Linked DNA regions of Homo sapiens: all the other regions are linked to region 2. The links come from fine-mapping of genetic effects on gene expression. A gene starts in region 2. Each other region holds a variant in brackets. All regions are shown on one strand. Distances are between the middles of the regions.

Evidence for each region. PIP is the estimated chance that this variant, and not a neighbour inherited with it, causes the effect. A credible set is the group of variants that fine-mapping cannot tell apart.
Region 1: its variant is the best candidate, but not a certain one, in a credible set for the expression of MCPH1 in prefrontal cortex (ROSMAP, PIP 0.71).
Region 3: its variant is the best candidate, but not a certain one, in a credible set for the expression of MCPH1 in cerebellar hemisphere (GTEx, PIP 0.60).
Region 4: its variant is the best candidate, but not a certain one, in a credible set for the expression of MCPH1 in whole blood (INTERVAL, PIP 0.85).
Region 5: its variant is the best candidate, but not a certain one, in a credible set for the expression of MCPH1 in whole blood (TOPMed, PIP 0.80).

What each region holds. Positions count from the first base shown.
Region 1 is chr8:6,631,724-6,636,723 of GRCh38, reverse strand. All of the region lies in intron 13 of MCPH1 (microcephalin 1), which reads right to left. All of the region lies in intron 1 of MCPH1-AS1 (MCPH1 antisense RNA 1), which reads left to right. Among named protein-coding and RNA genes, the nearest start is that of MIR8055, 12 kb to the right of the region's middle. The variant A/G (reference allele first, on the strand shown) is at 3,064.
Region 2 is chr8:6,404,045-6,409,222 of GRCh38, reverse strand. It overlaps MCPH1 (microcephalin 1), which reads right to left and starts at 2,596. Exons shown (of 14, transcript NM_024596.5): 1 at 2,534-2,596. The coding sequence starts at 2,555. It overlaps MCPH1-DT (MCPH1 divergent transcript), which reads left to right and starts at 2,675. Exons shown (of 2, transcript NR_040040.1): 1 at 2,675-3,517; 2 at 4,103-5,178. RefSeq lists silencers at 2,335-2,514, 2,775-2,854.
Region 3 is chr8:6,459,718-6,464,717 of GRCh38, reverse strand. All of the region lies in intron 9 of MCPH1 (microcephalin 1), which reads right to left. Among named protein-coding and RNA genes, the nearest start is that of MCPH1, 56 kb to the right of the region's middle. The variant G/C (reference allele first, on the strand shown) is at 2,902.
Region 4 is chr8:6,438,943-6,443,942 of GRCh38, reverse strand. It overlaps MCPH1 (microcephalin 1), which reads right to left. Exons shown (of 14, transcript NM_024596.5): 6 at 4,847-4,990; 7 at 1,787-1,876. Among named protein-coding and RNA genes, the nearest start is that of MCPH1, 35 kb to the right of the region's middle. The variant G/AG (reference allele first, on the strand shown) is at 2,545.
Region 5 is chr8:6,646,581-6,651,765 of GRCh38, reverse strand. MCPH1 (microcephalin 1) reads right to left here. Exons shown (of 14, transcript NM_024596.5): 14 at 3,258-5,185. All of the region lies in intron 1 of MCPH1-AS1 (MCPH1 antisense RNA 1), which reads left to right. Among named protein-coding and RNA genes, the nearest start is that of MIR8055, 27 kb to the right of the region's middle. RefSeq lists an enhancer at 2,425-3,624. The variant AGTTT/T (reference allele first, on the strand shown) is at 3,276.

The sequences.
Region 1 (5,000 bases), 230 kb before region 2:
TTTCATCTGCATCTTATACACATAGCCTAGAGGTAATTTTATACAGTATTTTAAATAGTTCTGTGCATAGACTGGTGTGATTGCCAGGTGCGACAGCATGACTGTAGTCCCAGCTACAACGGAGGCTGAGGTGGGAAGATCGCTTGAGGCCAGGAGTTAGAGGCTGCAATGAGCTATGATCGCAGCACTGTACACCAGCCTGGGCAACAGAGCCAAACTCTGTTTCAAAAAATAAACAAACAAATTTTGTGCATGAAACAAAGTCTGTGTACATGGAACCATCAGAAAGCAGAGGTATCACTATCTCAGCCCTCACCCCCATGTGGACAATCAGTGGTTGTGTGGCATCACCCTCATTCCTGACTGTGACTTTTTTTTTTTTTTTTTTGAGACAGTCTCTCTGTCACACAGGCTGGAGTGCAGTGGTGAAATCTTGGCTCACTGCAATCTCTACCTCCCAGGCTCAAGCGATTCCCCTGCCTCAGCCTCCCAAGTAGCTGGGACTACATGCATGTGCCATCACGCCCGGCTAATTTTTGTAATTTTTAGTAGAGATGGGGTTTTGCCATGTTGGCCAGGCTGGTGTTGAACTCCTGGCCTCAAGTGATCTGCCCGCCTTGGCCTCCCAAAGTGCTGGGATTACAGGCGTGAGCCACCGTGCCTGCCCGTGACTCTGAATTTATATGCTACTACCAAGCAGTCATTTCCTTACACTTATTCACACATAAGTACTTCACAGTAAAAAATAAGACATGCCATTAACACAGTGAAGACTTACGTGCTCAGGGGAGCTAAGCAGCCAGTGGCATCAGCAGAGACCGCAATCAGCTGCTGAACAACAGCAGCAACAACAAACAACAGCAGGCCTCTGCTCTCCCAACCATGCTGTGCTTTGATTCAAAGCTTACGGGACACGGCATTTTACATTTTAGGTGAGAAGGAACATAAGAAGCAGTTACAGGCCCAGGAAGTGGGTCCTCTGGGGACGAGGAGGCATTCTGCTGGGGGGCTTTTTAATGGTATCTGCACCACTAACAATGGTCTTAGAACCGACAGCTCCTTTCTGTTGGTTCAGTGTACACAAAGTTTGTTTCATGTACAAAATATTTACTTAGTTTTTTGGGTTTTTTTGAGACAGGGCCTCGCTGTTTCCCAGGCTGGTGTGCAGTGGCATGATCACGGCTCACTGCAGCCTCTAACTCCTGGGCTCAGGCAAGACTCTTACCTCAGCCTCCCACACAGCTGGGACTATAGTCACGTGTCACCATGCCCGGCTAATTTTTTTTCTTTCTTTTTTGTCTTAGGATTCTTTCTTTGATTTTATAAGCTGACATGATTGCTTGTTCTGTTGTGAATGCACGCTGCTCTGGGCCTCAGTTAACCCATCACACCTGAGCTCCACGCTGTCCACGGGTGCTTTTTCTGCAGTGTTAACGTCATCTTCATGGTCGGTATCATCACGATCACCTTGATTCAGAACCATTCTGGCTATTTCCCCAACAGTCAATGAAATGAACAACCGGAGCCTCATTATCAATGTTAAAAATGACATTAATGTGTACTTCTTCCCGCTGACTGATGAACTCTGAAGGTATATTTTTTGGAGGTCAGACATCCTTTTCTTCTCACTTGACAAGCTGAATTCTTCTAAACCACCACCTGGTTCATCATCATCACTGAACACAGTCGTAGGCCAGAGGTCACGCCAGGCACGCACATCTGTGTCTTTAGTCACTGTGTTGCAAGCGTTGGCAACAGCATGTATGGCATCCTTCATGCTCAGCTCCTGAAAATCTTCTACACCTACACCTCCGTTCACTGCTGCGAGCGTGCAATTCAAGACAGTGTTTTTATATTTACTTTTCATTGATCTAAAGATACCCTGGTTACAGGCTCAACTAATGAAGTCACGTTTGGGGGAAAGTACACAGCATCAATATTATCTTTGATGAGAATTTCAGCTGGAGGATGAGCAGAACAGTAGTCAAGGCATAAGAAAATCTTGCTGTCATCATCCGGTCCAACTTTTCTGCAGCGAGCACAAGAGGCCTGTACGAAGTGTTTGTAAAACCGATCAGAAAAGATGTCCCTGGTGATCTATGCCTTTTTGTTAGCATAATAATGGACTGGTAAGAAATTTACTCTTTGAAAACAGCACGGACAAAAGCTTTTGCCCATGAGAGCAGGTTTACACTTATGCGTGCCTGCTGCATTTGCACAGCACTGCACAGTCATTCTGTCCTTGGCATCCTTAATTCCTGTAGGGGCTGTCCCGTCAGCTGTAGTCAGCATCTTTCTGGGGCAGTAGCACCCAAATGGTCATGTCTCATCAGCAATACAGACTTGTTCTGGCATCAGATTTTCATTAGCGATAATCTTGGCAAACTCGTCAATGAGTTTCGACGCTGCCTTGTGATCTGCAGATGCTTTAAAACTTGAATTCCATGTCATTTCTTAAATTTCTGCAACCAGCCTGTTGAATATTCACAGTTCCCTTCAATTTTCAGTTCATCAGGATAGATCTTCGCTTGTTTCATGATCAGCCTACCACTGAGTGGCACGGGTTCAGTGTGATGCCTTCAGATCTAGTTTTTCAATACACTATTCACATCTTCATTTTTAGCTTTACGTAGAGTTTTTCTATTTTTCATTAACTTCTGCTCATCACATTCAGCATAGAACTTCAAAAGCGTATCCTTCTGTTTCTTCAGGTCATGTATGGTGGTCATCCCAACACCATACTCTTCTGTAAGACGCTTCACACTTATACTGCTGTTCAGTTCCTCCAACAAGTTGACTGTTTGTGCTATTGATAAACATAAATTATTCCTCTTTTTCTGATCACTGTTACACATAGGGGGATCTGCAGGCCTTTTCGACATTTTCAGTAATATTTTTACATGACACTGCAGAGAATAAGCAAAAAACCACAGTGAGTAATGCATGGAGTTCTCGGCCCCACGTGAGGTATCGTGGGGAATCTGCGTTGGGTGCGTCCAGCCTGCACACGTGCCATTTTATTACACATTGTGGGCGTGCTTGTGTGGGGGAATTTGGGTGTGC[A/G]TGGAAAAGTTATACTATAGTTGAAGGGGGCTGGGTGGGTCTTTTTTTTCCCTTGGGGACGCTAAATCAACTGTGTCGTGCACCTGTGCTTTGACTATGCCCTGTCACATGAGGTCAGGTGTGGAATTTTCCACTTGTGTTGACAGATTGGCACTCAAAAAGTTTAAGATATCGGAGCATTTCAGATTAAAATTAGGAATGTTCAACCTGTATTACATGGCTAGCCTTGAATCCACTATTATTTACTATGTTTTCTGTTACATTTTATAATTGTTTATCATTGGGTATACAAATGCTAAAGATTTCAGTGAGTGGATCTTACAAAGAGGAATTTTGCTGAATGAGTTGTAACAGTTTATTGACTCTCTTTGATGTTTCTATGTAGACAACTGTATGACATGCAAACAAAATGTGTCCCTTCCTGTATAATTCTTGTAATTTTTTTTTATTTTATTCCCTTGACTAGGAATCATAGAACACTGTTGAAGAGTAATAGCATTCATGTGTGTCTTGTACATGATTTAAGCCTTAAACTAAGGTTTTCACCATTCAATATTTGTTGTACGTTTTTTATAGATAACCTCCATAGTTAAGAAAGTTATCTATTCCTGGTTTCTGAAGAGTTTTTTTTTTTTTTAAATCATTACTCGGCATTGAATCTTCCCTACTGCTTTTTAACACTACTAAGAAAATTAATGGATTAGAAAAAAGAAGACTTAATGCTATTCATTTATCCTTTCATTCTTAGGTTAAACCACACTTGGTTATGTGTGTGTGTGTTTTAAAAACACACTACCAAATTTGACTTGATGAAATATCTTATTTCTGAGTTTTTTTTTCTTTTCTTCTTCTTAGACAGAGTCTCACTCTGTTGCCTAGGCTGGAGTGCAATGGCGCACTCTTGGCTCACTGCAACCTCTTTCTCCCAGGTTTAAGTGATTCTCCTGCCTCAGCCTCCCGAGTAGCTGGGACTACAGGCACGTGCCACCACGGCCGGCTAATTTTTTGTATTTTTAGTAGAGATGGGGTTTCACTGTGTTAGCCAGGATGGTCTCGATCTCCTGACCTTGTGATCCGCCCCCCTCGGCCTTCCAAAGTGTTGGGATTACAGGCATGAGTCACTGCGCTCAGCCTCAGATTTTTATGTACTTGTTTACAAATGAGTTTTTTAAACCAGTATTAGGTCAAGATCAATGTAGCCTTGTAAAATGAGGTGAATAGATTTCTTTTTTTTTCCTGTAAAACTTTATAATGTTTGGTAAAACTTACTACTAAAACTATCTGTGGAGGGTGCCTTTAAAAGTTTGATAGACATAACATAAAATTTACCATATTAGCTATTTTTAAGTGTCCACTTCAGTGGCATGAAGTACATTCGCAATGCTGTGCAGCCATCACTACTATTAATTTCTAGAATGTTCTCATTATCCAAAACTGAGTCTCTGTAGCCATTAAACAATAATTCTCCACTCCCTTCCTGCCTACTCCACCCTTGGTAATTCAACTATAGTTTGTCTCTGTGACTTTGTCTATTCTAAGTTCCTCTTATAAGTGTAGTCGTATGATATTTGTCCTTTGGTTTCTGGCTTATTTCACTTAACATGATGTTTTCAAAGTTCATCCACAGTGTTACATGTATCAGAATCTCCTTCCTTTTTAAGGGTGAATAATATTCCACTGTATGGATAGACCACATTTTGTTTCTTATGCATCCACTGATGAACACTTGGGCTTCTGCCTTTTGGCTATTGTGAACAATGCTGCTATAAATGTGGATGTACAATTATTCTTTTGAGATCCTGCTTTCAATTTTTTTGGCATATACCCAGAAGAGGAATTGTTGGATCATACAGTAATTCTACTTTTCATTTTTTGATGAACTGCCACACTGTTTTCTATCGTGGCTACAATATCTTACATTCCCAACATTACATGAG
Region 2 (5,178 bases):
AATAGATTTTGTTCTATTTACATTTAAGAGTAAACCGAGGCCGGCACAGTGGCTCACGCCTGTAATCCCAGCACTGTGGGAGGCGGAAGTGGGTGGATCCACGAAGTCAGGGGTTTGAGACCAGCCGGGCCAACATGGTGAAAAACCATCTCTACTAAAAGATACAAAAAATTAGCCGAGCATGGTGGCGGGCACCTGTAATCCCAGCTACTGGGAGGCTGAGGCAGGAGAATCACTTGAACCCGGGAGGCAGAGGTTGCAGTGAGCCGAGATTGCGCCATTGCACTCCAGCCTGGGTGACAGGGCGAGACCCGTTTCAAAAAAAAAAAAAGAAAAAAGTAAAACAAAAATTTACTCTACTGGCCAGGTGTGGTGGCTCATGCTGTAATTGCAGCACTCTGGAAGGCCAAGGCAGTGGGATCACTTGGGCACAGAAGTTTGAGACCAGCCTGGGCAACATAGTGAAACCCTGTCTCTAAAAAAAATTTTGTTTTTAATTAGCCAGGAATGGTGGCGAGTGGCTGTAGTCCCAGCTACTGGGTGGGAAATGGGGGTGGGTAGGGTGGAGAAGCTGAGGTGGGAGAATCCCTAGAGCCCAGGAGGTAGAAGCTGAGTTATGATCGCACCATTGCACTCCAGCCTGGGCAGCAGAGAAAGACCTTGCCTCAAAAATAAGAAAAGTAAATGAAGTTTCTTCTACTGGCTGAACAAAGTAGCTCATGCCTGTAATCCCAGCATTTTGCAAGGTGGAGGCGGGAGGATTGCTTGAGGCTAGGAATTCAAGACCAGCCTAGGCAACATAGTGAGACCCTGGCTCTACAAAAAAATAATAAATTAAAAAATAAAAATAAAAATAACCGGGCGTGGTAGTGCCTGTAGTCCCAAGTTACTCAGGAGGCTGAAGCAGAATTGCTTGAGCTATTATGTGATCACATCACTGCGCTCCAGCCTGGGCAAGAGAGTAAGACTCTGTCTCATAAATAAATTTCTACTGAAAGCCTTTTCAAAATAGCTTCAGTGGAATTTATTAAAATTTTAAGCAAAGAACAACTGTACCCATACAATACATGAGAGTTTACATTTGTAAAATTAGTTGCTTTCCCCAAATTCTTACGCTTAATTTTTCCAGTGCAGAAACCTATTTTCTGTAAAGAGACAGATGGTAAATATTTCAGGCTTTGTGGCCAATACAGTATTTGCCACAACTACTCAACTTCACGGTTGTGGCACAAACATAACCATAGGTAATATATTAACGGGCCGGCCTGTGTTCCAATAAAACTTTATTTATGGAGAAGGAAATGTGAATGTGATATAATTTTTCATTTGACCTTTTTTTAAAATCACTTAAAAATGTAAAAGACATTCTTAGCTCGTAGACCCTTACAAAAACAGGCAGCAGGCTAGATATGGCCTGGGGGGCATAGTGAGTGGACCCCTGTTCTAGTGGATATCCTCTTCTCAAAACCTGATGTTTAAAAGCATTTTCCAGGTGTGCCGTTGGTCAATGATTGGGGGTAACGCTAAAAGAAAACCAGGTTAATTTAACAAAATACTAACATTAGAAAAATAGCCACATCTGATTACAGACTTTGTATAAAGCCTCTAGTCTTTACTTTTGGCTATGAGGTTTTATGACTCCAGGCCCCACAATACAGGCCCCTTTTTTCTCACGGTCAAACTCTACAAGACACGTGTCCGCTATTCCCCTCTCCTGGGCTCTTCCAGGTGCACAGAGGGTGGGACTGCGTGCGGTATCATATACTGGTTAGGACAGCAGCTCCGGTCTAAGGCCCTGTCAGCACTGACTAGCCACACACAGGGAGAGTCACCTAAACGTCCGATGCCTTAGTTTCTGCCTGTAAAATGATATAAGAGAGTTGATAGAGCGGTTAAAAAAATCAGACAATACCATACTAGCCTAAGCACAGCGCCTGGCACACAAAGACTCCGCAGTAAAAGGCGGCTCCTATTATTGGAACAATTAGCATAGAAACTCAACTGCCGCTCCTCCAGGTGGGCCTCAGAGGGGGTCGAACAGGACCAGACCCAGGAGGGCCCCACACCAACTTCCGGAGGGCAGGACTCTGCCTGCCAGTGAGCCCCAGATCCAGGGACTAAGGCAGCAGGGGTGAAAGCAGGTAGGGGGAAAGGCGGGATTTGGGGGACAGGCAGCATGGGGGAGGGAGCAGGCAGCGGGGGATTGAGGGGAACTAGCAGCACGGGGGTTGGGGCACAAGCAGTACGGGGGAGGAAGCAGGCAGTCGGGGGTTTGGGGGGACAGGGAGCACGGGAGACGAAGCAGGCAGCCGGGGGTTTTGGGGGGACAGGCAGCGGGGGAGAGAGCAGGAGCAGGGGGTTTTGGTGGGACAGGCAGCGGGGGAGGAAGGAGGCGGCAGGGGGTCTGGGGGAGACAGGCAGCGAGGGAGGGGCGAGCGGGGCTCCTCCCACGGGATCCCCCGAGTGCGCCCGCGACGAGGGGTGCCGGTCCTCAAACTCCCGCTGCTGGAGCAGGCAGCAGGAAGTACCTCACCTTTCAGGATGGGGGCCGCCATGACAGACGGCGGGATCCGGCCAGCTGGCCTACGCGGTGCTTGCGAGCCTGGCGGCGCGCGCGGGCACTGGGCATGCGCGGGGTGAGCGCGCCGCCGTCACCGCGCTCCGCTGAATCCGCGTTTCCGGGATTTCTCTGTAGGTGAGGCGGGAGGCTGGAGGGAGCTGAGCCCCCGGGGAGGGGGCCCGATTCCGCCTCGCCGCGCCTCTGGCTGCTGGGCCGTGGGTTTTTCTCTTCTCCTGGGAGTAAGGAGGACGACGGCCCCTAACCCCTGAATTAGCCTTCTATTTCCATTAGTGACTTAGAAGCTACCCGGCGCCTCATCTGGGCTCACCTGAGCTGAGGATCAGGAAGGGGAGGGGGCACAGTCATTCCCTCGCGGACGCGGCGGGACCCCAGCGGACGGCTTTGTGCGGACTTTCGGCACCGTTATGCCCCCCTAGCCCGACACCACCTGGGGCTGGCGCGCCACGTTACTGTTCAGGGCCAGACGCACCGCCCTGCCTGCTCCGGGGAGCCGGACCTCCGATCCCGGGGATGGGGGACCCCGAGACCTCAGACCCAACGGAGGGGACTCTGATACCTCAGACCCCACGCGGGGACCCCGAGGCTTCAGACCCCCACAGGGTGACCCCGAGATCTCAGACCCCCGCAGGAGTACCTCCAGACCTCAAATCCCCAGTAAGGGAATGAAAGAGACTTCGGATCCCTGAGGCAGCAAATCCCTGTAGGGGCATCCCAGGACTCAGGTCACCGCGGGGTGAACCCAGACCTCACATTCAGGCAATCCCCAGGACGCCGATCGGCTGGCACTACCCACTGTCCCGGCCACCCCCCCTGGAGCTCAAAGGCTTGGCCCTCCAGCTGCTCCACCCTGCCGGCAACCAGGCTCAAACCTGCAGCCCGCGGATCCCCTGCCCCGGAAGCAACCAGATTCGCGGGAGGTTACCTGACTGATCCAAGGTGATACAGCTGGTAACTGATGGAGATGTTGGTAGTGAAATTCATGTACTTTTAGTTCTTTCTATGGAATCTAGAGGTAGAATACATGTAAAAGAATATCGACTACCGTCTACTCAGGTCTCTGTTTTATCTGTTTATTCATTCACTCTCAGCTTTTAATAGGATCCAATGAGCCCTCTGTGGTTCTGAAGAATTGCCTTGAGTATATGCAGCCTCAAAAAACCCACTTCCTAGGCTCAGTCTTTGATCAATATTTATCATTATCACCAGTTATTGTTCTAATAAACTCTACTCTGGAAATATGGTGTTATGGTTTACTTGGGAGTGTGAGTTCAGGGCATCATTGAAGACTCACGTACTTTTACTGAGAAAGTGACATTGATCTCTGTAGATTTTGAATTAAATGATATGATGAAGTATATAAACCAATTACTTTTGGTCAAGGTGGTAAAAAAAGTTTAGTATTTGATAGATTCTTCATCTCCACGATCACAAATATTTTCTCCTAGGATTTCTTCTAGAAATATTACTGCTTTAGGTTGTATATCAGGTCTAGGTTCTACTTTTTTTTTTTTTTTTCTCCAGGCAGTTTCTCACTCCGTTGCCCAGGCTGGAATGCAGTGGTGTAATCACAGCTCACTGCAGCCTCAACCTACTGGACTCAAAGGATAAGATCTGCTTTTAATTAATTTTTGTATACGGTATGGGATAGGGACCAAAGTTCATTTTTTTGCATGTATACATATCCAAATGTTCCAGCATCATTTATTAAAAAGTTATTTTTGTCTCTACTGCATTTCCTTTGTGCTTACATCAAAATCTGTGTTGCATATGTATGTGTTTCATTTTAGGCTTCCTATTGTGTTCCATTGAGCTATTTGTCTTTTTGCTGCCAGCACCATGCTGTTTTGATTATTGTAGCTATATAAATAAGTGATGAAATCAGATAGTTTATGTCCTACAACTTTATTTTTCAAGGTTATTTTGTATCTTCTAGATTCTTCAGATTTCCTTTTAAATCTTAGAGTCGACTTCTCATTTTGCACAAAAAAATACTGCTGGGATTTTGATTGAGATTGTGTTGACTCTACAGATGAATTTGGGGAGAATTGACATTTTAACCATATTGAATCTTCTGACCCATTAACATTTAGGTCTTTTAAAATTTCTCTGGCCAGACGCAGTGGCTCACGCCTGCCACTTTGGGAGGCCAAGGCGGGCCGATCACAAGGTCAGGAGATTGAGACCATCCTGGCTAACACAGTGAAACCCCATCTCTACTAAAAATACAAAAAATTAGCCGGGCGTGGTGGCATGCGCCTGTAGCCCCAGCTACTTGGAAGGCTGAGGCAGGAGAATGGCATGAACCCGGGAGACAGAGCTTGCAGTGAGCAGAGATCTTGCCACTGCACTCCACCTGGGGCAACAGAGCGAGACTCCATCTCAAAAAAAAAAAATATAACTGTTGTTAGATTTTAACCTAAGTATTTGTTTTTTTATTTTGTTTTTCTTTTTTTCTTCTTTTTTTTTTTTTTTTTTTTTTGAGACAGGATCTCACTCTGTCTCCCAGGCTGAAGTGCAATGGTGTGATCATGGCTCATCTTGAAGCCTCGACCCTCCTGGGATCAAGCTATCCTCCCACCTCAACCTCCTGAGTAGCT
Region 3 (5,000 bases), 56 kb before region 2:
CCAAAGCAGCAGATCTTAAATAGACTTCTTCGGCTAGCTCCTCTCTTAGCGCCTGTGGGTCTCCCAGTGGGAAATGTCCTCCGTCGGTGGCCTCTACCTTTACGTGGCCAAAGACGACCACTGAGGCACAGGAGATCCACCCTGGCTGGTCCTCATTTCTACCACGTCCAGTCCAAAACACATTTGACAATTTCTGAACCACACATTTACAATGCATGCAAAATCAGTTAGTGAACAAATAAAACACATTTTTAAAAAGATGGAGTTCTTTGAAGATCCTATTTAATGTTTTCTGTAGAAATATTTTCTCTCATACATAACAAGAAAAAAACAACGTGCTAATGGGGGCTGAAAGCAACTGTTAGGCTATCAAGAGGCAGCTGTTTTTTAAATGGCTTCATCAAGCAACATCTGCTGATGGACCCCACACCTGTTACAACGAGCACATCCCCGCCACTGCCAGCTCTGGGTACACTCTGCCAAAAGTGATTTATCAAAGCAATTACAGATCACTGAAACAGCTGTGTTGGAAACCAAGGGCACCTTCGATCTTACAGAGCTCACTGGCCGGCTGGTCGGCACTAAAGGGCCTATCTTTCTGCGTACAGCGGGTCTGAACAATGGAAATGATTTACATGGATATTTACAAAGGGTGTCATCCTCGAGGAAGTGTGGCAATTCCCCTAAACGTGTGATAACAACATACCCGTGCTGCATTTTCAAGAAAAAATAAATAAATATCACCTGTCCTTTGGATGAGTCACTGCTCTTTCAACTTGAAAGTTAAATTTAAAATCAAAGCTACAAGAGTATATGCTTCCAGCCAAGTGCACCATCTAATGGAAAACAGCCAAAGGCCTGGCATTACTGCAAACTGTAAAACTGCATTCATAAAATATTAGTGTCTCCATTACAGCAGTGAAGTACTCATTCCAGAACCTTTTACTTGAAGGACAGGAAACGCCAGGAAAATAATCCATTTTACATGAAAATTGGCTCAAGTATTCTATTTTCTCTGCTCAGGAAGGCATCTGTGTCCCTGCAGCTCTCTTTCCTCCTGCCCCTAGCTGGCCTGGCCACACTGCATCTGGGCTAGGCCTTTCCCACCCTCTGGGCATCTAGTACTCTTTTTATTCCCACCACTGGGACCCTTTTATCTTCTTTCCACTGCAAGGCTCCTTCTCTGGGGATGCTACACCCAAATGAGCTGTAATTCCCAATCTACTGCCTCCGCAATAAAGACATGATTAGAGCTCTCTGAAATATACTTTCTTTTCAGCTTTCCATATGACTGAGAAATAGAAAACTCAATCTAAAAAGAGGTCACAATGCTCAATAAATGACAGCTGTGAGTACCCTATCGCAGCTCACAAAGATCTCAGTTCTTTCAGGAAGGTTCTAATGATACTGGAGATGAGGAAAGCATCTCTCGAAAACTGAGGAAGCAGATCCCCCAAGCGGGCATTTCTGACCGCAGAACTCAGTCTTCTGCCTCCTGGGGGAGATGACAGAGCACAATTTCATGCTAATGGCCTACATCTCACCCCCAAAACAAAGGTTCTCAATGGGAGGATGACCATCAGCTCAGAATCACTGAAGGAGCTTTTAGAAAAGGCTATACTCCTATACTCACCCCCTGCCCAAGACTCTATTTTGGCTCTGGCATGCCTGTGGTCAGTAAGTCCAACAAGAAACACAGTGTGGACTGTCCCAGAGTTTTGAGGGTCATTTTCATTAAAGACACATGGTGGTCTCTGGGAGTGGGCAAAGAGGAGGCAGGTAAGAGAGACCTACTCCAAGTTATAGCTGCAGAACAAAGCACAGTCAATATGCAGACATGACCCTCACCCAAGCTGGTGCTGAAGAAAATAGCTAACATTTTTTGAGCACTTCTATATATGAGGTACTATCTTAAACTCTTTGCATGTTTCAACTCAATTAATTAGCACAAACCCTTTGAGGAGACTGGTACTATTATTATTATTCCTGTTTTATACACAAAGAAGTATAGGCACAGATATTAAGTAATTTGTTCAACACCATGGAACCCACAGAGCAGGTGAGTAACAGAGATGGGACTGAACCCAGGCATCTGGCTCTGGGGGCAATGCTTTAGCAACACTGCGCTGCCATGCACAGCCTTGGAGAAGAGAATCCATCTTTTACTGAAAGAAGACAGTCTCTCAAGTTTTGGAAGAATATTCAAAAATAAGTGAAGTACATGATGATGATTCCATCATTACTGAGTGATGGTTAAGAGCACCAAAAATGTTTTAAACATGTTCACTGAAAAAGTAAAAGGGAAATTAATGCATCTCTTATTTACTCAGAAAATATTTACTGAGCACTTATTTTGTTTGTGATGCTATATCCTGCTGAGTATTAAGAGACTAACAGGATATAGACTATGTCCTTATGGGCTCATATTCTAGCAAAGATGTAAGAACAAGCAACTATCAGCATATGCAAGCTATTATTTGTTTTGCACCCTATTTGAGAAACTTTCAGGAATTTAAGCATTCTATGTGGTGTGTAATTCTTTAATTTTTTTAAACCACTATCAAAATAAGTATGCTCTATTTGTTCCTTCACATCTCTCCAGGCCTCCAGGCTTAGGAAAGCCTCTGTAAACATTTCTGTGCTCTGACCCACAGCTTGCCTTCACATGCAACAAGCTGGATTGGCAGAGATGGCTCCAAAATGAGATTCTACAACTGAGCCACTTACAAAAAGCTATCCTGTTGATAACTCACATTAAAAATGTTCCTGAGGATAATAATCAATATTTTGAAAAACCAAATCCAGAAGTAGTAGAATAAACCAAATACTTGGAGAAAAAAAAATTACATTCGTGTATTTCTACCAGAGTGCTGGTATCTATACATAGCTTCTTTGGGTTCT[G/C]TGTCTGACAATATTCAACAAGTAACAAAGAAAACAGGTCAAAATTCGTCATAATATTTTCTATTTCTCCCTCTGAAAAGATGTATAACTATCAATGTCAATGACCTACATGCTGCAAGCTAAGATTACAGAGGTAATAAAACTGCTTAACTGGATCCTCCAAATAAAGTCTCACCAGGCCGGGTGTGGTGGCTCACGCCTGTAATCCCAGCACTTTGGGAGGCTGAGGCGGGCACATCACTTGAGGTCAGGAGTTCAAAACCAGCCTGGCCAACATGGCAAAACCCTGTCTCTACTAATTAAAAAAAAAAAAAATAGAAAAATTAGCTGGGCATGGTGGCAGGTACCTATAATCCCAGCTACTCAGGAGGTTGAGACACAAGAATCACTTGAACCTGGTGGGGTGGAGGTTGCAGTGAGCCAAGACTGGGCCACTGCACTTCAGCCTGGACAACAGAGCGAGACTCCATCTCAAAAAAAAAAAAAAAAAAGTCTCAACAAATTTGAAACAAGTATATTTAAAATAAGTCTAAAAAAAAACAGACTCTTTTTCTGACTGATTTATAGAGTGATTTTTGCCATTAAAAATGGGCATTACACCAAAAAAAAAGCTAATGGAAGTTATAGCTCTGAGATTCTATAATTCTTCATGGAATCATGGTTTTTTTCACTCTTTAAGAGAAACTGAATTAATGTCAATTCAGGTGTTTAGTGTGTCTTTTGCAAACTGACCTACGTGTTCATCTCAAAAATCATTTCTCTTGAGTTGGCCTCTTACTGCTGTCTTCTCAGAGAAGCATTCACACCAAAACTCTATTTAGAAAAGTTAAGTGGCCGTTAAAATTCACCCATCGTCTCCAGGAATGGTGGACTAAGTAGTTTGAAATAGGCTCCTCACTGTGAGCCCTCAGAAAAGCTGGACAAGATGCAAACAAACAAACAAGCCCCAGCTATTTGCAGACGTTGCCCAGCTACTAAGTCAGTGAGTCATGGAAGAAGAAACCCATGGAAGAGGAGGTGAACCAGAGTCAGAAGCCCACACTCCCAGGGGACAGCTAGCCTCACAGAGACAGAACCCCAGCTCCAGATCATCTCAGTCCCTGCTAGGAAGATAAAGACAAACTAACCAGGCATATTAGATATGGAACGTATGATTGAAAACAACAGATAAGAAAAACAGAAATTGAGGGGAGCCAGAAAAGGGAGTTATTTCAAAAGAAATATGCATAATATGTTCAAATAAATAAAAGATAGGATTAATAATTTTGACAGAGAACTGGAAATGGTTTTTATAAATCAAATAGAGGGCATGAAGGCTCCCGCCTGTAATCCCAGTACCCTGGGAGGACGAGGTAGGAGGATTGTTTGAGACCAGGCGTTCGAGACCAGCCTGGCCAACGTGGAGAGACCCCCATCTCTACAAAAAATAATTAAAAAAAATAAATGGAATAGCAGGGACTGAAAAATAATACATGTTAAAACTCAGTATATGGATTTAGCATCAGAATAGACTTAAAAAGAGTCAAAGGTGAAATGGAAAAGAAACCAATAGAAGACATCCAGAATGAAATAAGGAGATACAAGAGGAAAGAAATAGAGGAAAATCATGAGACATGGGCTATAGAAGCAAAGGATAGCACACGAGATTGCGTTCCCAGCAATGGAGGCGTGAGAAAACAGGCAAAAGAAATCACAGTGGAGAAGTTTCCAGAACAGATCAAAGACAGGACGGCCTGTGACTCTCAAGTAAATAAACAACAAAAACAATACCCTGGTACAACAATCACAATGAACCTACAGAAAACCAAAGATGAGAGCAGTCTAACCCCAGAGCCCGTGGCCGTGGCTGAAGTCAGCCTCTCTCTTCTCGCGGTTCTGCATCCATCCCCGGGCCACACCAAGGCCGTGCTGCTCTTCGCACAGGCTCCAGGCCTTCCCACCTTTCTTGCCTTTGTACCTTCTACCTGGCACCTTCACATTACTCAGAACTCACGACTGACAGCTCTCATCGACTGACAGTCCTGTCTGCAGGGCTGCCCAGATAGGACATTACCTGCAAGTGCTACTTCAGATTTAAAACTAAAAAGAAAATAAAGTCA
Region 4 (5,000 bases), 35 kb before region 2:
TCGTATTACACTGATATTCAAAAGTGAGCCATTTGGTAGGCTTTAATGTTTCAACTCTTATATGGATTACTCATTTCCTGAGAGTAATGCTAAGCTGCTGCTACCTCCTAAATATTCTATACTCCTCTGTACCCTCTGGGCCTTCCCCTTTCCTCCACACTTTATTCTGGGTAAATACAATTCATCCTTCCAAACCCACCTGGGTTGTCAACATCCCTGGGACCCTCCCACTGCCCTTGCCAGCTCTCCCTGGCCTTGCCCCCTCTGCTACACACCATCATGCATCATACTGCCCCATGGTTACGTGGGCATCTGCCCGTCACTGTGCTATAAGCTACTGGAATGAATATGAAGAAGTCTCTAGTCCCGTGCTGGCTCCCTCAATAGGGGCTCAGCACTTGCTGGTGGAGGGCCTGTGTTTTGTAGAAATCACTCAATCTGGAGGTCACGTAAGTGTTAGAACTCTCTGTCTGAAATCACTGAAGTTCTACTTTAAAAAGGAAGAACACAGGTAACCACCAAAGCTTCCCTTCCAACTGTGCCCCAGGTGTCTTCAAGGCAGTAGTTGGAAATAAGGTCACTTTTAATTTTAGATGCTCAATATATCTTATTCAGCACCTAAAATTGTTTTATGTTTTATCACACTTTTCAAAAACCCGATAAGCAATGTGACATGTCACTAAGAGTGTAATCTGTGATGTCAGACTGCCTAAGTTAGAAGCTTGGGTTTGCCATTCACAAACCACATGACCTTGGACAAGCTGTTTGACCTCTGTGTCCTGGTTTTTCACTGGCAAAATGGGATGGTGATGGAACCTACCTCTTAAGGCTAATGGGAGAATAAATGAGATAACAGTGAATAAGACACTTAGAGGAGTGCCTACAACAACAAAAATGAAATCAATGTTAGCTATTATTATCACTTGTTTCCAACTTCTAGGAAATAAATGTAACAAGTGTAAAATAAAAAGATGGAGACTGTTTAAGAGAAATGGGTAAATAATTCCAGCACACAGAGGTGAGAGTACAAGGATTAACCCTGCGCTGAAAGGAGGCTTTGTTTGAAACTTCTAATATCTTGATGCCATCTTGCGCTTTGTCATTGCTGTGGCTTTCATGATAAATTTTCCATAACATCTCAAGCACTTTTGAACATAGTACTTTCAGGGATCACTGCTACTTACTTGAGCCCCACTGGGGACTAGGTGAAGAAACTGTAAGAAATTTGGTACGAAGAAGATATGACCATGAAAAATTACCATCCTAAGTGGAACTAGGGCTCCCACATTACAAACATGTATGTGCGTAACATGGAACTAACTGCACTAATTCCTACCAGTGTTCTTTCTGCTTCTAATTAGAAATCCTCTATTTATCTCCTCAATTGACGATCTTTACATACTTCACTGACCCCGTTCAATAACAGGTTCCTTGTGTTAATTATACATTGTGTGAAACAACATTTCCTTAGCTCTGACCTCAGTTCTATGTAGTTTAAACTGCATACAGATTAGTTCATATACGTTCACAATAATTTTTTAAATAGAGCAATGGATTCTGTAGCAAGAAAGCAAATGCCTAGGAAAAAAAACCTATAGGAACCAAAAAGGAAGTTTAACTCATGCCTTAATTTTATTATAATACCTAATTTCAGGGGGAAATTTAGAAGTTCTAGTTTTAACTAATTATTTTACTCATCAGAAGTTGCTACATGAAATTCTAAATCAGAAAATCATATTATTCTCAAAACTTAAACATATCACAGAAAGGAAAATAAAAATTTTACCTGAACACAAAGTATCACGTGAAATGTTCAAAGGTGCTTCACACAGAGAGTTACTTGGATTATCATGAGACTGCTGAATCATTTGGGAAGCTAAAAACAGGACCAAGACACTGCATTAGATAAAGTTTCAGTATTTCTTAGCAGATGAAGCCAGCAGGAAGTCCTCCTATTAATCATAGGTGATTCTATTAAATCCTATAATCACAAAGTTAGAAGGGATCTTAAAGTCAACTTGCCTGAATCTAATCAGAAGCTCAACAGAATTAAGTGAACATTTCCAGTCTGTTCTAGTCTTCTTATTTGATAATCATGGATTTTTCTTCAAGGATGCTCATCATAGTTACCTCTAAAACTAGAGCACTGCTTCCCAACCAGAGGTGACGTTGGGGTCCCAGCAGATATTTGGTAATGTCTGGACACATTTTTGGATATCGCCAGTGAGGGAGAGCAGTAGGTACACTGCTAGTGTTAGTGGGGAGAGGCAGGGATGCTGCTGAGCTTCCTACCACACACAGGGCAGTGCCCCCAACAAAGAATTACCCAGACCCAAATGTCAGCTGTGCTGGGTTGAGAAATCCTAGAGGTTTCATAGAAAACACTTAGGATGTCAATGACTTAACAAATAAGATCGTAAGTATTATCTTCAAAGGCGGTTCATACAATAGTCAAGAAACAAAAGAAATGTTTGGATCTTATATCCAAAGATATTTTTTAGAGACTCAAAAGGATACTTTTCTGAGAAAACTTCAGCAAAAAAA[G/AG]AGAATAAACCAAGATAAGGAAGGGAAGCACACATAAAATTTTCAGTTAAGTTTTAAACTGTACTGGACGCAGTAAAGTAGCAGAATTAACACTGCCAAGTAATAGAAAAAGTAAAGTTTAAGGCAAATTAGTTTATACACATAATTGCACACTGAAACAATTTGGATGTCCACCTGGGACACAGCTAGTTATCTACCTCAATGTCCATTCTCACTTCTTCTTAACAACAGAACTTTGATTTTATCAGGACAGCAATGCATCCCAGTCAAGACTACATTTCAGTCTTGCTTGCAAAAGGGGTGGCCATATGACCACATTCCAGCCAATGGAATTAGACAGGAATATTGGATAGACGTCTGGTAAGGCTGTCAAAAGGAGATGGCTTAGCTGGGAGGCACACACATTTTGCAAGAAAAGCCAGGCAGGTACAACAGAAAGATGGGAACCTAGTTTCTTAAAGACACCATGGAATGGCATCCCAGCCCTGGCTGCCTACTTCTGAACTAGGCAAGACAGAGAAAGGCAATTCTATCGATTGTAACACATTGGTTTTTGTCTTTGTTATATGCAGCCGAAACTAACCTTAACTGATACATATGGACAAAGGACATAAAATTAAGCGAGGTAATAGTTGATCACATTAAAAGCTGCATTCGGTAAGTCAGTCAGTAATATGAAAAGGCACTTAAACCTGCTTCTAATCAAAAGTAACTTCAAGAACAGATCCAGTTTTTCAAGCTTCCGACTGAAAAAGGCTACAGGCTAATGCCATTCAGTTTTCCAAGTATGGAGAAAGGGGCATTCTTATAAACAACTGGTGACAATAAGATGACTCAAATTTTTTGAAGGATAATTTGACTATATCTATCAATAAGCCAGGGATCGTGGCACACACCTGTATTCCTAGCTACTTGAGAGGGTGAGGCAGAAGTACTTGAGCCCAGGAGTGCATGTCCTGCCTGCGCAACACAGGGAGACTCTATGTCTTTAAAAAATCAAATTCTGCATGTATGAATTAGTATTATTGAAATACACGAAGTACTCAGAAATACAAGGATTCACGTAGGCACATGCAGGGGTTATAACAGTAAAAAGTCGGGGTGGGAAGCTGGAAAGACTTATGTCTAGAGAAAGGAAAATGGCTTAACAAAAAAACAAGAACAACCAAACCATATGGTTAAAAAAAGAATAAAAACTGCAACACAATTTCTAATAACTGGGAAAAAAATACCCACCAATAGATTTTCAATATCAAAACTGTAGACTACTTTGAGCATCTTAAAACAAAAATAGGTCTACAACAACTAAGCTGCAAACAAACCCTCCAGGATACTCTTAAGTAAATAAAGCGGATAATAATACATATGTCATTATCTAATTTAGGTAAAACAGAAATTACACCTCCACACAGAAACCAAACCCGTATCTTTTTCATGTATACACAGATATCTGATACACTGAAACAGATCTGGAAAAACACTTAAACTTAAAATACAGGTTACCCCCAGGTAGAAGAGTACAATTAGATGGGTATCAAGATGAACTTTTACTATTAGCTACTTTGATAAATGTTTTATTAAAATGTGAATTACACTTCAGTAATTAAAAATTTTAAAGATAAAAGAAATAATGAAAAACAAACTGATTCCTTAGATACATTAATCTAAAGCAAATTCCTTCAAAAGACATGATTCACGGCCAGGAGCGGTGGCTCACGCCTGGATTACAGTCCCAGCCGTTTGGGAGGCCGAGGCGGGTGTATCACCTGAGGTTAAGAGTTTAAGACCAGCATGGCCAACATGGTGAAACCCCGTCTCTACTAAAAATACAAAAAAACAAAAAAAAATTAGCCAGGAGTGGTGACAGGCGCCTGTAATCCCAGCTACTCGGGAGGCTGAGGCAGTAGAATCACTTGAACTAGGGAGGTTGCAGTGAGCCCAGATCGCGCCACTGCACTCCAGCCTGGGTGACAAATGCAAAACTCCATCTCAGAAAAAAAAAAAAAGACATGATTCATTTTTTTTTAAAAAAAAAGAAAGAAAAAATTCCAAAGATAATAGAAATTACAAAGGAGCTACAACAAATAGGATTTTAAACTTGAAGAATACTATACACCCAACATATGCTTCAAAAATCTTAATGATGCATAAGATTTTCTGGAAAACAAAGCCAGCCATGAAATAAGTCAAAATGTGTTACTACCAGGAAACATTAAAATATCTAGGCAAAGAAAAAAGAAGCTTTCCACCATAATTGAATCGGCTATTTGCATAATTTTCATTTTACAAACTAATTACTTACAGGTGGGGGAAAGATTTTCCCTTTTCTCCTTCATCTCTTGTAATCTCTTCTCCATTGCGCTGTGGTGCCTACTATTAATTTCAATTGTGGGAGTATATATTAATGAACCATTAGATTCAAATAAGAGAATAGGTACATCATCATCTGAAAATAA
Region 5 (5,185 bases), 240 kb before region 2:
TATATTTAGGATAGTTAGCTCTTCTTGTTGAATTGATCCCTTTACCATTATGTAATGCCCTTCTTTGTCTGTTTTGATCTTTGTTGGCTTAGAAGAGTGTAATATATTACAAAGATTTGTGATCAGCTTACGACAGGCTATTAATACTGTTATTTTCTTGTGCAACTATTGATTTCAGCAAGAATTTATGAATGTGCTGTTATCTCTAAAACGAACCCTGTTCTTAAACTAACAATGCTGTTTGTTCTTCAAATACTGGGACATTTCTGTAAGTTCTGGTTCTTTAGGTAGGTAGTCAGCATCATTAACTCGTTCCCTCAACTATAAACATCCTGTGACTGAGAGTGATCATCCCTCAGGGAATGTCCCCCATCAGGTTTGGCTCTATCCAGGCTTTATTCAGGATGGAGTCACCCTAGTTAGGACGCCTCTGACAATTCTGATGTTCTCATAATCAGTGCCCTAGTTATTCTCCAATACCTTGATAAGAATCTCACAAGGTATTTGCAACACTGTAAGAAATAGCAATTTGGTCTCAATCTCCTGACCTCATGAGGCAAGAGAATGGCGTGAACCCGGGAGGCGGAGGTTGCAGTGAGCCGATATTGGGCCACTGCACTCCATCTTGGGTGACAGAGTGAGACTCTGTCTCAAAAAAAAAAAAATAGCAGTTTGGTTTAACAAGACATTACATCTTGTGCAGAAGTAAATGAAATGTACATTTATAATATCCCATTGCGTATTCTAACTCCCTGCTTCTGAAACTGCATCCACATCACCGGATAGCTTGTTAGAATCCAGCCTTTGCAGTGAGCCATGAGTGTGCCACTGTACTCCAGCCGGGTGACAGAGGGAGACCCATCTTGAAAGAAAGAAGAGAGAGAGAAGACAGAGAAGAGACAGAAGGAAGGAGGAGAGAGAGAAGGAAGGAGGAGAGGAGAGGAGAGGGGAGAGGAGGGGAGGGGAGGGGAGGGGAGAGAAACGCAGCCTTTCTGGCCCCAGATGTGCTGAAGTAGAATCTGCCAGTTAACAATATCCCCAGGTGATTTGAATTTGTATTAAAGTTTGAGATGCAGTTGTCCAAATCCTTTATTAAATAGGTATGCTTAGATTTTTCTCATATAATCTCAAATGAAATTATAAGGGGCATGGTTATAAACAATTATCTAGAAATGATCTCTCAAGTCCTTGAATGGCATTTCCAAAAACATGAGATGATAACATTTACTGTAACTCAAGGTGAAAAATGTTTCATCAAAGACTGTCAATGTCTGCCCAAAATAATGGGAGCAGCTACATGGAACACAAAGACGCTCTCAGGGACCATCAAGGGAAGTCTCATTTGTGACATCTCTGCAATGTGCCATGTTTCATTTTCAAAGACGTTTTCTGAGTGTGATCAAAGTTCTCTGTCGTGCATAGACCATTTCAGTTTGGGACATCTTGGATGCACAGAGAAAGCCTTGTGGGTCAGGAGTTCTGGTATTTAGATTCTTTGCACTGAGTTACTGCTCATGGGTGGCGTGTCTTTCGAGATCTCAGCTTCTTTGTCAGTGATAGGAGGGACTGGGCCAGACCGGCAGTTTTCAAGCAATCTCGGAAGTATCTACAAAGGCGCTGTGCAGCCTACCCTTGTGCAGAGAAAGATGAGATCCTTGGGTGAGGATCTGAAACCCTCGTGTGACCACCCCCTACCCAGCTTAATGAGAGCGGTCCTGATAACATGTTTTTACGTATTGTATTTCTTTATGCATCCTCATGTGAACAAAGGATGTTGCTATTGAAAGAAGGCTGAGAACAAACGTCTATTAAGGAAGGTCTCATGGAAATACTTTAGATTGTAAGTTTAAGGACCATGTAGTTACCCTGAAGTCTATGGGACACAGAACACGTATAGCACTGAGGATAGTGACCTCAGTAAACATTGCAAGATTGATTATTAATTGTCATCTGTAGGAAACAATAAATTCCTCTTCGAAGTTTAGCCTGTTAATGTCTTTTAAAATTCAAGAGGGAGAAAATTGTTAAGTACGCTGAGTTCTGAGTTCCTCTCCAAAGAACCAATGTGTCAGTATATTCAGCTTCCCTGTTCTTTGTTCTCCATTTTAAAGTTTAACTTTCTCATTCTTTACATCTCTTTACCCCTAGTTTCAGTAAACAGCCCGCTCCTAGCCTCTATCACCTGCTCTGTCCTTAGTCACCTGTTCTGTCCTTAGTCACCTGTTCTGTCCTAAGTCATACGTAGTCACCTGTTCTGTCCTTAGTCATCCATAGTCACTGTTCTGTCCTTAGTCACCTGCTCTGTCCTTAGTCATCCATAGTCTCCTGTTCTGTCCTTAGTCATCCGTAGTCACCTGTCCTTAGTCACCTGCTCTGTCCTTAGTCACCCTTAGTCACCTGTTCTGTCCTTATTCATCCTCAGTCACCTGTTCTGTACTTAGTCACCTGTTCTGTACTTAGTCATCTGCTCTGTCCTTAGTCATCCTTAGTCACCTGCTCTGTACTTAGTCACCCACTCTGTACTTAGTCACCCTTAGTCACCTGTTCTGTACTTAGTCACCTGCTCTGTCCTTAGTCATTCTTAGTCACCTGGTCTGTACTTAGTCACCCGCTCTGTACTTAGTCACCCTTAGTCACCTGTTCTATCCTTAGTCACCCTTAGTCACCTGTTCTATCCTTAGTCATCCTTAGTCACCTGTTCTGTCCTTACTCACCTGTTCTGTCCTTAGTCATCCTTAGTCACCTGTTCTGTCCTTAGTCACCTGCTCTGTCCTTAGTCAACCTTAGTCACTTGCTCTGTCCTTAATCACCTGTTCTGTCCTTCGTCATCCTTAGTCACCTGTTCTGTCCTTAGTCATCCTTAGTCACCTGTTCTGTAACTGTCCTGCCAGTGTGGCTTGTACCTCTGCTGTCTTTAAAATAGCCAATTGGAATTAGCTTAGACTGTGCGGTCCAACCCTAGTCAGTGGGGGAAAGATATAGCAGTAGGGCTAGCTGCATTAGAAATAAGGCCCCCTTCCCCTCCCTTGTCCAGTGTGCTCTCGCCATTGTTCCATCCGCGAGATGCACCCTTCTATAAAAGTAAATTGCCTTGGTGAGAAGACTTCTGCCTGAGTGCTATTTTCACTTGGCAGCACTGAGCATTTACTTCCAACATCATCCCATCCAACAGCCTCACAGTTGCCCTGTTATGGCTGAACGAGCTTGTAGTATAGGCCTGGGTAGCATGAACACAGATTCCAGAGTGAGACTGCCAGTGCTGAAATGAGACAGTT[AGTTT/T]TTATTTATTCCACTTTTGTTCTAGGTTTCACTGAAGAAATGTTGGTTTCACAGTGCTGCCCAGATTCCCCTGGGCTGTTATCTGCATATTACTTTCTGTCTGATGGGTCCTCTGGGTAGCTGATACAGACATGGAGTTCAAAGAGCAAGAGATGACTAAGCGTGACTCCTGGGAAAAATAAAAGTGGGTAGAAGCAGGCTCAGGTATGGAAAACCTTCTGGCCACTGTGGAGGTCTGACAGCTTAGACCACATTGCAGGTCACAGGCAGTATCGGCCAACTCCACAGGGAGTTCTAGGGTGTGGAGCCTCATGTTGGGCTGAATCAGCCATGCCCTGTGCCTTTCTGTGCCCACGTATTGGCTGGGGACTGCAGAGAAAGACCATGGCCTTAACTTGAAAGCCAAGGCCGACCTTAAATGAACTACCAGATGCAGGTTGGTCAGTGTTAGCTACCTGCACTCATTGCTGTGGAAGAGAAAGTTCTTTCTCTAAGGGAGATCTGAGAGCTATTGCCCTGGGGCTGCCATGTAGCTCTCGTTCTCTCTCTCTCTTTTTTTTAAAAAAAATAGCTTTATTGGTGTATAATTCACATGCCTTAAGGCTTACCCATTAAAAGTGTTCTGTTCATTGATTTTAGTAAATGTATACAGTTGTGTAACCAAAATCACAATCCAGTTTTAGAATGTTTCCATCATCCCAAAATGTTTGCTCTCTGTTCCCACTCCCATCCCCAGCTGCAGCAGACCATGAATCTGTTTCGTGCCTCTACAGTTTTGCGGTTTGTAGAAATGGTATCTAAATGGAATCTTACAATTTGTAGTCTTTTGTGTCTGACCTCTTTCACTTATGTTTCTGAGGCTCATTCATGTTGTTGCACGTGTTTAGTAGTTTGTTGCTTTTTAGAAGTTTGCTGAGTAGCGTTCCATGGTGTGGATATACATTTTGTTTATCTACTTTTCAGTTGATGGGCTAATTTTTGGTTATTATGAATAATGTTGCTATGAACATTTGTATACAAGACCTTGTGCAGATCCATGTTTTCATGTATTTTGGTTATATACCTGAGAGTGAAATTGCTGGGTCATATGGTAGTTGAATGTTCAATTTTTTAAGCAACTGCCAAATGGTGTTTCAAAGTGGCTGTATCATTTTGCACTCATGCCAGCAATGTAGGAGAGTTCTAGTTTCTCCATATCTTGGTCAGATGTTGGAATTATCAGTCTTGTTGTTTACAGTCATTCTAATGGGTGTGTAATAGGTATTTCATTGGGCCTTTAATTTGTATTTCCCTAGTGACTAATAATATTGAGCATTTTAATGTGCTTAATATTTGTATATCTTCTTGCATGAATTGTCTTCAGCTTTTTCTTTATCCTTTTATTAATGAGTTATGAGTTCTTTACATGGTCTGGGTACAAGTCCTTTATCAGATATATGATTTGCAAGTATTTTTTCATAGTCTGTGGCTTGTCTTTTCATTTTTTTTTAATGGTTTCTTCAGAAGAGCAAAACTTAAAATTTTGACAAAGCCCAACTTATTTTTTTAATGAATTATGCCTTTAGTGTCATATCTAAGAAAGCTTTGCCTAACCTGAGGTCAGAATGATTTCCTGCTATGCTTTCTTCTGTACATTTTATTTTTTACATTAGGTCAATGGTTCTCAACTGGAAACAGTTTTGCTCTCCAGGGCACATTTGGGAATATCTGGAGACAGAGATTGTCAAAACTAGGTGTGTGTCAGGGGAGGGATGCCACTGGCATCTAATAGGCAGAGGCCAGGATGCAGCTAAACATTCTACAGTGCACAGGACAGCTCTCCACAGGAAAGAATTATCCACCCCAGCAAACGCCAACACTGCTGATGTTGAGAAACCCTGATATAGTCCACGTTGAGCTAATTTTT